Homo sapiens: one gene and its partner. The protein of the gene in region 1 purifies or fractionates together with the protein of each later gene. This does not show direct contact. Each region holds a gene or a part of one and is shown in the gene's direction. Other genes may lie near its edges.

What was found. The genes of interacting proteins can lie anywhere in the genome.
Region 2: the proteins of GPR12 (region 1) and TAP2 purify together in Homo sapiens (co-immunoprecipitation; 2 studies listed by BioGRID and IntAct, with this or other methods). This does not show direct contact.

The regions. Positions count from the first base shown.
Region 1 is NC_000013.11:26,758,686-26,762,433, reverse strand, and holds the start of GPR12 (G-protein coupled receptor 12), read left to right. Parts: upstream 1-1,647; 5' UTR 1,648-1,855; intron 1,856-2,591; 5' UTR 2,592-2,606; coding exon 2,607-3,611; 3' UTR 3,612-3,748. UniProt on the Homo sapiens protein: Promotes neurite outgrowth and blocks myelin inhibition in neurons. Receptor with constitutive G(s) signaling activity that stimulates cyclic AMP production.
Region 2 is NC_000006.12:32,832,029-32,835,776, reverse strand, and holds part of TAP2 (antigen peptide transporter 2), read left to right. Parts: intron 1-3; coding exon 4-134; intron 135-417; coding exon 418-623; intron 624-2,952; coding exon 2,953-3,150; intron 3,151-3,315; coding exon 3,316-3,444; intron 3,445-3,748. UniProt on the Homo sapiens protein: ABC transporter associated with antigen processing. In complex with TAP1 mediates unidirectional translocation of peptide antigens from cytosol to endoplasmic reticulum (ER) for loading onto MHC class I (MHCI) molecules.

The DNA.
Region 1 (3,748 bases):
GAGAAGAAGATTACATCCCTTCATGACAGCATTTGCTGCCTGGCATTATTGTTGATTTGTGTGTGTGTCACTACCAGACTGGAGACCGTGTCTTACTGAATTTCTATGCCCAGCCCTTAGCCCGGTTCTTGGGACACACACGAGTCTGATGCCTCCCCACCATGAACAAGCCACTCTGAAAACTCCATAGAACCTTGCTTCTCAAAGTGTGATCTGTCAACCAGCAGCAGCAGCAGCATCACTGGGGAAGAGGCTTGCAAATGCAGAAGGTAGGCCCACCCCAAGAACTACTGAGCAGAATCTGTCAAGGTAAAAAGTTCAGACTATTCTGGAGGTAGCAGGAGGTCTTGGACATCATGGAATAGATGTGCCAAATCGAGGAGGTTGGGAAAGGGAGAGGCAGGTGGGTACCAGAAATGCAGGTGAGAGGGGATGAGGGCCTCAACCAGGGAGCTGAGGATGATGAGAAGTGGCATGCAGGGAGAGCTGGAGTGACCTTGCAGAGCCAGAAACTGATTGATGGAAGAAGGGAAGGAGAAGCGGGAAGAAAGTCAAGGGTGATTGAGGCTCCGAATCTGTTGGGCTGGGGTAGAGAAGACGTGAGCACCAGGGGAAGGCAGGCTGGTCAGCTGATGATGCCCCTGTAGGGTCCCTTGCCTGCAGACCATCTCCATTCATACAAGAGCCCCTGGGCAAGTGGAAGAAAAGCAGTGGGAAAACCTTCACCTCTGACAGGGCAAGACAAGACTATCACACTTTTTCCTTATCCCATCTTTAAACTGGAGGATCATCTTGGAACTTAAGATCTATGAGGTGCTCTGGTTTTTATATCCAGAGGAGGCATGGGATCATAAAAGCAGACAGCTATCAGGTTCTTCATCTTAGAATCCATTGATGTGGCAAAATGAAAAAATAAATTAATAGTGCCACTTCAGTATCTAAATGAATTGGGGTTTGGCCAATGTCTGCAGGAAGCTTCTACAAGAACTCAGTAAATGATTTCCATTTGAAAACACAGCTCAAAGAGCGCTTAATAAGTGCAATTTGGTGATGATAATGATGATCCACAGAGCAGCAGCATCTATCCAGTCAAGCAAATGTTCCTGGGGAACAGTGATAATGAACCAGGTCCAGGACCATGGGCAATTCTAAAAGAGCGTGCGGGGCATTTTGTTGTTTTAAAGATCTGCTTCCCTAACCTGTCCACCCCGCATCCCTGCTGCTGATCGTGAATATCATCCTAAGCAATTCTTTTGGCCCTGAATGTAGTGGTTTAGGTAAAGGCGTGGAAAAGCCAGGACTGTAGAGACTTGGAGCTCCCCAGGGAAACCACAGGAACGAAATAGGTCACAGGGCTCCAGGCAGCGCTCCCCTGCCCCGCCCGGTGCAAGCCCGGGGCCGCCGGCTGGGGTGGGGCGCGCAGCGCGGCAGGCAGGCAGGGCTACCATGCAGTTCTCAGCCTCCTGGCTCCTTCGCCCCTCGCCCCGCGCCCCTGGGCCGCCCTCGCCTGCCCGCACCCTAGAGCAGCCCTGACCCGTGGGGGCGCGCGGCCTCGCGGGGATCCCGCGGGCGGGCGGGCGGCCGGGCGCGCGCGGGGCGGGGGCGGCGCGCGCGCGGGGAGCGTGTGGGCCGGGCGGGCGCGGCGGGGAAAGCTGGGCGCGCGAGCCGAGGCTGCTGCTCACCTGCAGCCGCGCCGCTCACCTGCCGCGGAGTGCGCGCCCCGCGCCCTCCCGGCCCGCTCCGGAGCCCGGCCGCCCCCCCCTTGCCACAGCGGGCAACTGCGCCGACATGCGACACGAGTAGCCCACGCGCTTCGGAAGCACCGGAGGAGCCCCCTCGGCCTGGGCGAGCCAAGGTGACCCCCTCGATGACCCCCCCGCCCCCGCGGGCCGCCTGTCCCCGCACCCTGTCTGTCCCCCTCGCGTCCGACTCCCGTCCCCGCCGCCAGGGAATCGGCAGCAGTGCATGGGCATCTGTCTGTCTGTCTGTCTCGGTACTTCCATTGCACACACCTCCCTCTCGTGGCCCTCCCGACTGCCCCGTGCGCACGGGGGGAGTCTGGAGCCCCTCTTTGTTCCGGTCGGGGGTGCGTTTGAGGATGTGCACGCGCGCGGGGGATGCGTTTGGAGGGTGGGAGTTCGATGGAAATAGGCGATTTAAATATTCCATCGAGGATGGCGGCCCCTGGCTCGAGACCTGCCGCTGCCGCGTGGTTTTCTCGGCAGCAGCCCAGATGTCAAACAGTTGTTCGTTTTCAGCATGCAAGATGTGATTTTCCAATGTGCATTCCCAGCGCTGTTGCAAACAGACCGCCGCGAGTCCGTGTGTGCCTGCCTCGCTCACGCTGGTGTTTTGAAGTCCTACCCTGTGTTTTCCCCAATGCCAAACGGCATTTTTGTTGTGGGGTTTAAACCACAGAGACTTTGGCTTTTGTTTCATTTCCCAACAGTTCCTCATTCCCGAAGCTTGTGGCATTTGGTACTGGTATCTGAGCAGGGGCTGGCTTTCTGTTTGTCTGTGTGTTTTTTGCATGATCTTGGATTGTCACCCTGCTGTATTTAAACATTAAAAAGCCTGTCTTTTCGTTGAAGAGGACAGGGGTTAAAATGAATGAAGACCTGAAGGTCAATTTAAGCGGGCTGCCTCGGGATTATTTAGATGCCGCTGCTGCGGAGAACATCTCGGCTGCTGTCTCCTCCCGGGTTCCTGCCGTAGAGCCAGAGCCTGAGCTCGTAGTCAACCCCTGGGACATTGTCTTGTGTACCTCGGGAACCCTCATCTCCTGTGAAAATGCCATTGTGGTCCTTATCATCTTCCACAACCCCAGCCTGCGAGCACCCATGTTCCTGCTAATAGGCAGCCTGGCTCTTGCAGACCTGCTGGCCGGCATTGGACTCATCACCAATTTTGTTTTTGCCTACCTGCTTCAGTCAGAAGCCACCAAGCTGGTCACGATCGGCCTCATTGTCGCCTCTTTCTCTGCCTCTGTCTGCAGCTTGCTGGCTATCACTGTTGACCGCTACCTCTCACTGTACTACGCTCTGACGTACCATTCGGAGAGGACGGTCACGTTTACCTATGTCATGCTCGTCATGCTCTGGGGGACCTCCATCTGCCTGGGGCTGCTGCCCGTCATGGGCTGGAACTGCCTCCGAGACGAGTCCACCTGCAGCGTGGTCAGACCGCTCACCAAGAACAACGCGGCCATCCTCTCGGTGTCCTTCCTCTTCATGTTTGCGCTCATGCTTCAGCTCTACATCCAGATCTGTAAGATTGTGATGAGGCACGCCCATCAGATAGCCCTGCAGCACCACTTCCTGGCCACGTCGCACTATGTGACCACCCGGAAAGGGGTCTCCACCCTGGCTATCATCCTGGGGACGTTTGCTGCTTGCTGGATGCCTTTCACCCTCTATTCCTTGATAGCGGATTACACCTACCCCTCCATCTATACCTACGCCACCCTCCTGCCCGCCACCTACAATTCCATCATCAACCCTGTCATATATGCTTTCAGAAACCAAGAGATCCAGAAAGCGCTCTGTCTCATTTGCTGCGGCTGCATCCCGTCCAGTCTCGCCCAGAGAGCGCGCTCGCCCAGTGATGTGTAGCACCCTTGCACCCAGGAGGACTCTGCATTTACCAAGCACTTCCACTGCCTGGCCAAGGTTTGAGATGCTTCCCTTGAATTCCTTGCATTGGATTCCCTCTCAAGCCACAGGAGCACTTAGCATTCGTGAAACAATGA
Region 2 (3,748 bases), on another chromosome or scaffold:
CAGCTCACTGTCTGCAGGCTGCCGAGGAGGCTGCTTCACCTACACCATGTCTCGAATCAACTTGCGGATCCGGGAGCAGCTTTTCTCCTCCCTGCTGCGCCAGGACCTCGGTTTCTTCCAGGAGACTAAGACAGGTGGGGCCTGGAGTCCAGGTCTGAGATTCCCATGGACATCCCTTGCCCCTCAGTGACCTTCCACCCACAGCCTCTCCTCCTGCCTTCACCCGTATGCCAGGACTTGGGGATGCTTTTCTCTTGTTTGGGACAGGGTGGAGAAGCAGCCTCCACTGTCCCTCTGCAAGTGAAGGAGGATGTTCAGAGGAGGGGGCTGTGTCAGAGGGAACGGTCAGGAGGGAGTTTCTGGGGGCCCTGCAGTACACATGGTTTCCTTTTTCCTCACCTGCTCTGTCCTTCTTAGGGGAGCTGAACTCACGGCTGAGCTCGGATACCACCCTGATGAGTAACTGGCTTCCTTTAAATGCCAATGTGCTCTTGCGAAGCCTGGTGAAAGTGGTGGGGCTGTATGGCTTCATGCTCAGCATATCGCCTCGACTCACCCTCCTTTCTCTGCTGCACATGCCCTTCACAATAGCAGCGGAGAAGGTGTACAACACCCGCCATCAGGTGAGCGTGCATGTAAGGGAACCCCAAAGGGAGAATAAAACTGACAGGTGAGGAGGCTTCCACATTTGTGGCTAGAGGATCCCCTAGAGAGAGATGTTCTCTTCTCAGCCATTAGGGGAGAAGGTATATTGTAGTATATACTACATTTTGTTTGTCCAGCCATCCAACAATGGATATTTGACTTCAGAAGATTCATGATTCTCCAGAACTGTAAACAAAAATGTAAAGTGTATGTGAAGGTATGGGGGAGGGAATAGGAAGGGGAGATGATAGGCGATGATAACTTTTCATTAGCTTCTCAAAGGAGTCTGTACATCCCCCGCCCCCACTGCGAAGATTAAAAATGGTTTCTTAGAGGCTTTTAGGCAGGGAGATTTTCCCTTTAAAATCAGCAGAAGAAGTCTGGATGCAGCATAGGGAAAGGAGGCGTCATCAGGAAGTCCTAAGTCTGAATGTCAGCTCCACCTTCTCTTTTTCTCTTATATTGTGGTAAAACATACATAACATAAAATTTACCATTTCAACCATTTGAAGTGTACAGTTCAGTGACATTTAGGAAACCCACATTGTTATTGGGTAACCATCATCACCATCCATCTCCAGAACTTTTTTCATCTTCCTAAAATGAAACTCTGTACCCACTAAATAGTAACTGCCTACTACCCCCAACCCCTGGCCGCTGGCAACCTCCATTGTACCTTCTGTCTCCATGAATTGTGATGACTCCCGGTGCGGTACGTAAGTGGAACCATACAGTATTTGTCTTTTTGTGACTGGCATATTTTACTTAGCGTAATGTCTTCAGGCCTCATCCATATTGTAGCATGTGTTAGAATTTCCTCCCTTTTAAGGCTGAATAATATTCTGTTGTGTGCATATATCACATTTTGATTATCCATTCATCTGTCAATGGACATTTGCGTTGTTTCCACCTTTTGGCTGTTGTGAATTATGCTGCTGTGGACATGAGTGTACACCTGTTTGAAACCCTGCTTTTGGTTCTTTTGGGTATATACTTAGAAGTGGAGCTGCTGGATCATATGGCAATTCTATTTAACAATTTTTGAGGAACCATGTATTAGTCCATTTTTACGCTGCTGATAAAGACATACCCAAGATTGGGCAATTTACAAAAGAAAGAGGTTTATTGGACTTACAGTTCCATGTGGCTGGGAAGACCTCAAATCATGGCGGAAGGTGAAAGACACATTTCACATGGCAGCAGACAAGAGAAAAGACAGCTTGTGCAGGGGAATTCCCCTTTTTAAAACCATTATATCTCGTGAGACTTATTCAATATCACAAGAACAGCATGGGAAAGACTTGCCCTCATGATTCAATTACCTCCTACCCAGTCCCTCCCACAACACATGGGAATTCAAGATCAGATATGGGTAGGGACACAGCCAGATCGTATCAAACCACCATACAGTTTTCCATAGCGGCAGCACCATTTTAAATTCCCACCAGCAGTGCATAAGGTTTCCAATTTCTCCACATCCTCATCAACACCACTTTCTGTTGTCTTTTTTTTTAATAGCCATTCTAATGGTGATTAGGTGATTAGGATTATCTCATTGTGGTTTTGATTTGCATTTCCCTAATGATTAGTAAATATTGAGCATCTTTTCGTGTGATTTTGGCCACTTATGTTTCTTTCTTGAAAGAATGTCTGCAAGTTCTTTGCCCATTTTCTGATTTTTTTTTAAGTTGTGGGAGTTCACTATATGTTTTGCCTATTAATTTCCTATCAGATATATGATTCACAAATATTTTCTTGTATTTCATGGTTGCTTTTTCACTCTGTTGCTAGAGTTCTTTGATGCACAAACGTTTTAAATTCTGATGAAGTCTGATTTATCTATTTTTTGTTGCCTGTGCGTTTGGTGTTATATCCAAGAAATCACTGCCAAATCTAGTGGCATGAGGCTTTTCTTCTACATTTTCCTAGGAGTTTTATAGTGTTAGCTCTTATGTTTAGGCCTCTGATCCATTTGGAATTACATCTCCACCTTTCTTAACTATCTGTGGCTCCTTGGGAAAACTACCCTTCTTTCCTGATTCAGACACTGGGGATGGGAAAATTACCTCAAATGAAGGTTAAAAAAATTGCATGTATCTCCTATACTACCTAACACTGAGAGCTCAATAATATTTTGTTCCCTTGCTCCTTCACTCTTATTCCTTCTGGAAAGAAGAGTAAGGAAGAGGGAGAGAAACAGTTTGGTATTTTTAGGTAGACTAGGGAGCATCTCACTGGCTGGAGTAAGATGTGGGGGCCTGCTGTCTTTGCACATCAGCCCTGGTGTTTGCTGGCCCTCTTTTCCAGGAAGTGCTTCGGGAGATCCAGGATGCAGTGGCCAGGGCGGGGCAGGTGGTGCGGGAAGCCGTTGGAGGGCTGCAGACCGTTCGCAGTTTTGGGGCCGAGGAGCATGAAGTCTGTCGCTATAAAGAGGCCCTTGAACAATGTCGGCAGCTGTATTGGCGGAGAGACCTGGAACGCGCCTTGTACCTGCTCGTAAGGAGGGTAAGATACCAGAGTGGTTGTGAAAGGAGCCCAGGAAAGGGGGAGGGCAAGGGAAGAGGAAACTACAGCTGGTTCTAGAGGCCTTTGCAGCTCAGTCTCATAGAGGCAGAGAGGGGGAAAGAATGGGAAGATTCCCAGCCTCATCTCTTTCTTCTCCTCTTCCAGGTGCTGCACTTGGGGGTGCAGATGCTGATGCTGAGCTGTGGGCTGCAGCAGATGCAGGATGGGGAGCTCACCCAGGGCAGCCTGCTTTCCTTTATGATCTACCAGGAGAGCGTGGGGAGCTATGTGCAGGTGAGCGAGAAGCCAAGCCTGCTCTCCTTTTTTCCCTCTCTTTTTCTTTGTGGACTCCTGGGCCTTGGGCTTTATTTGTTCTTTTTAACAATACAATACAAAACCAAAACCCGCAAGTAATTTTGCTATGGAGAATTTTAAACATATGCCAAAAATGAGACAAAATAATATTACAAACTCACATGTATACATCCTGTGCTTTAACAATGATCAACTCATGCCCAATCTTGTTGGATCTGTATCCCCAGCCACTTCCCCCCACCCATATTATTCTGAAGCAAATCCAAGATATTGTATACTTTCA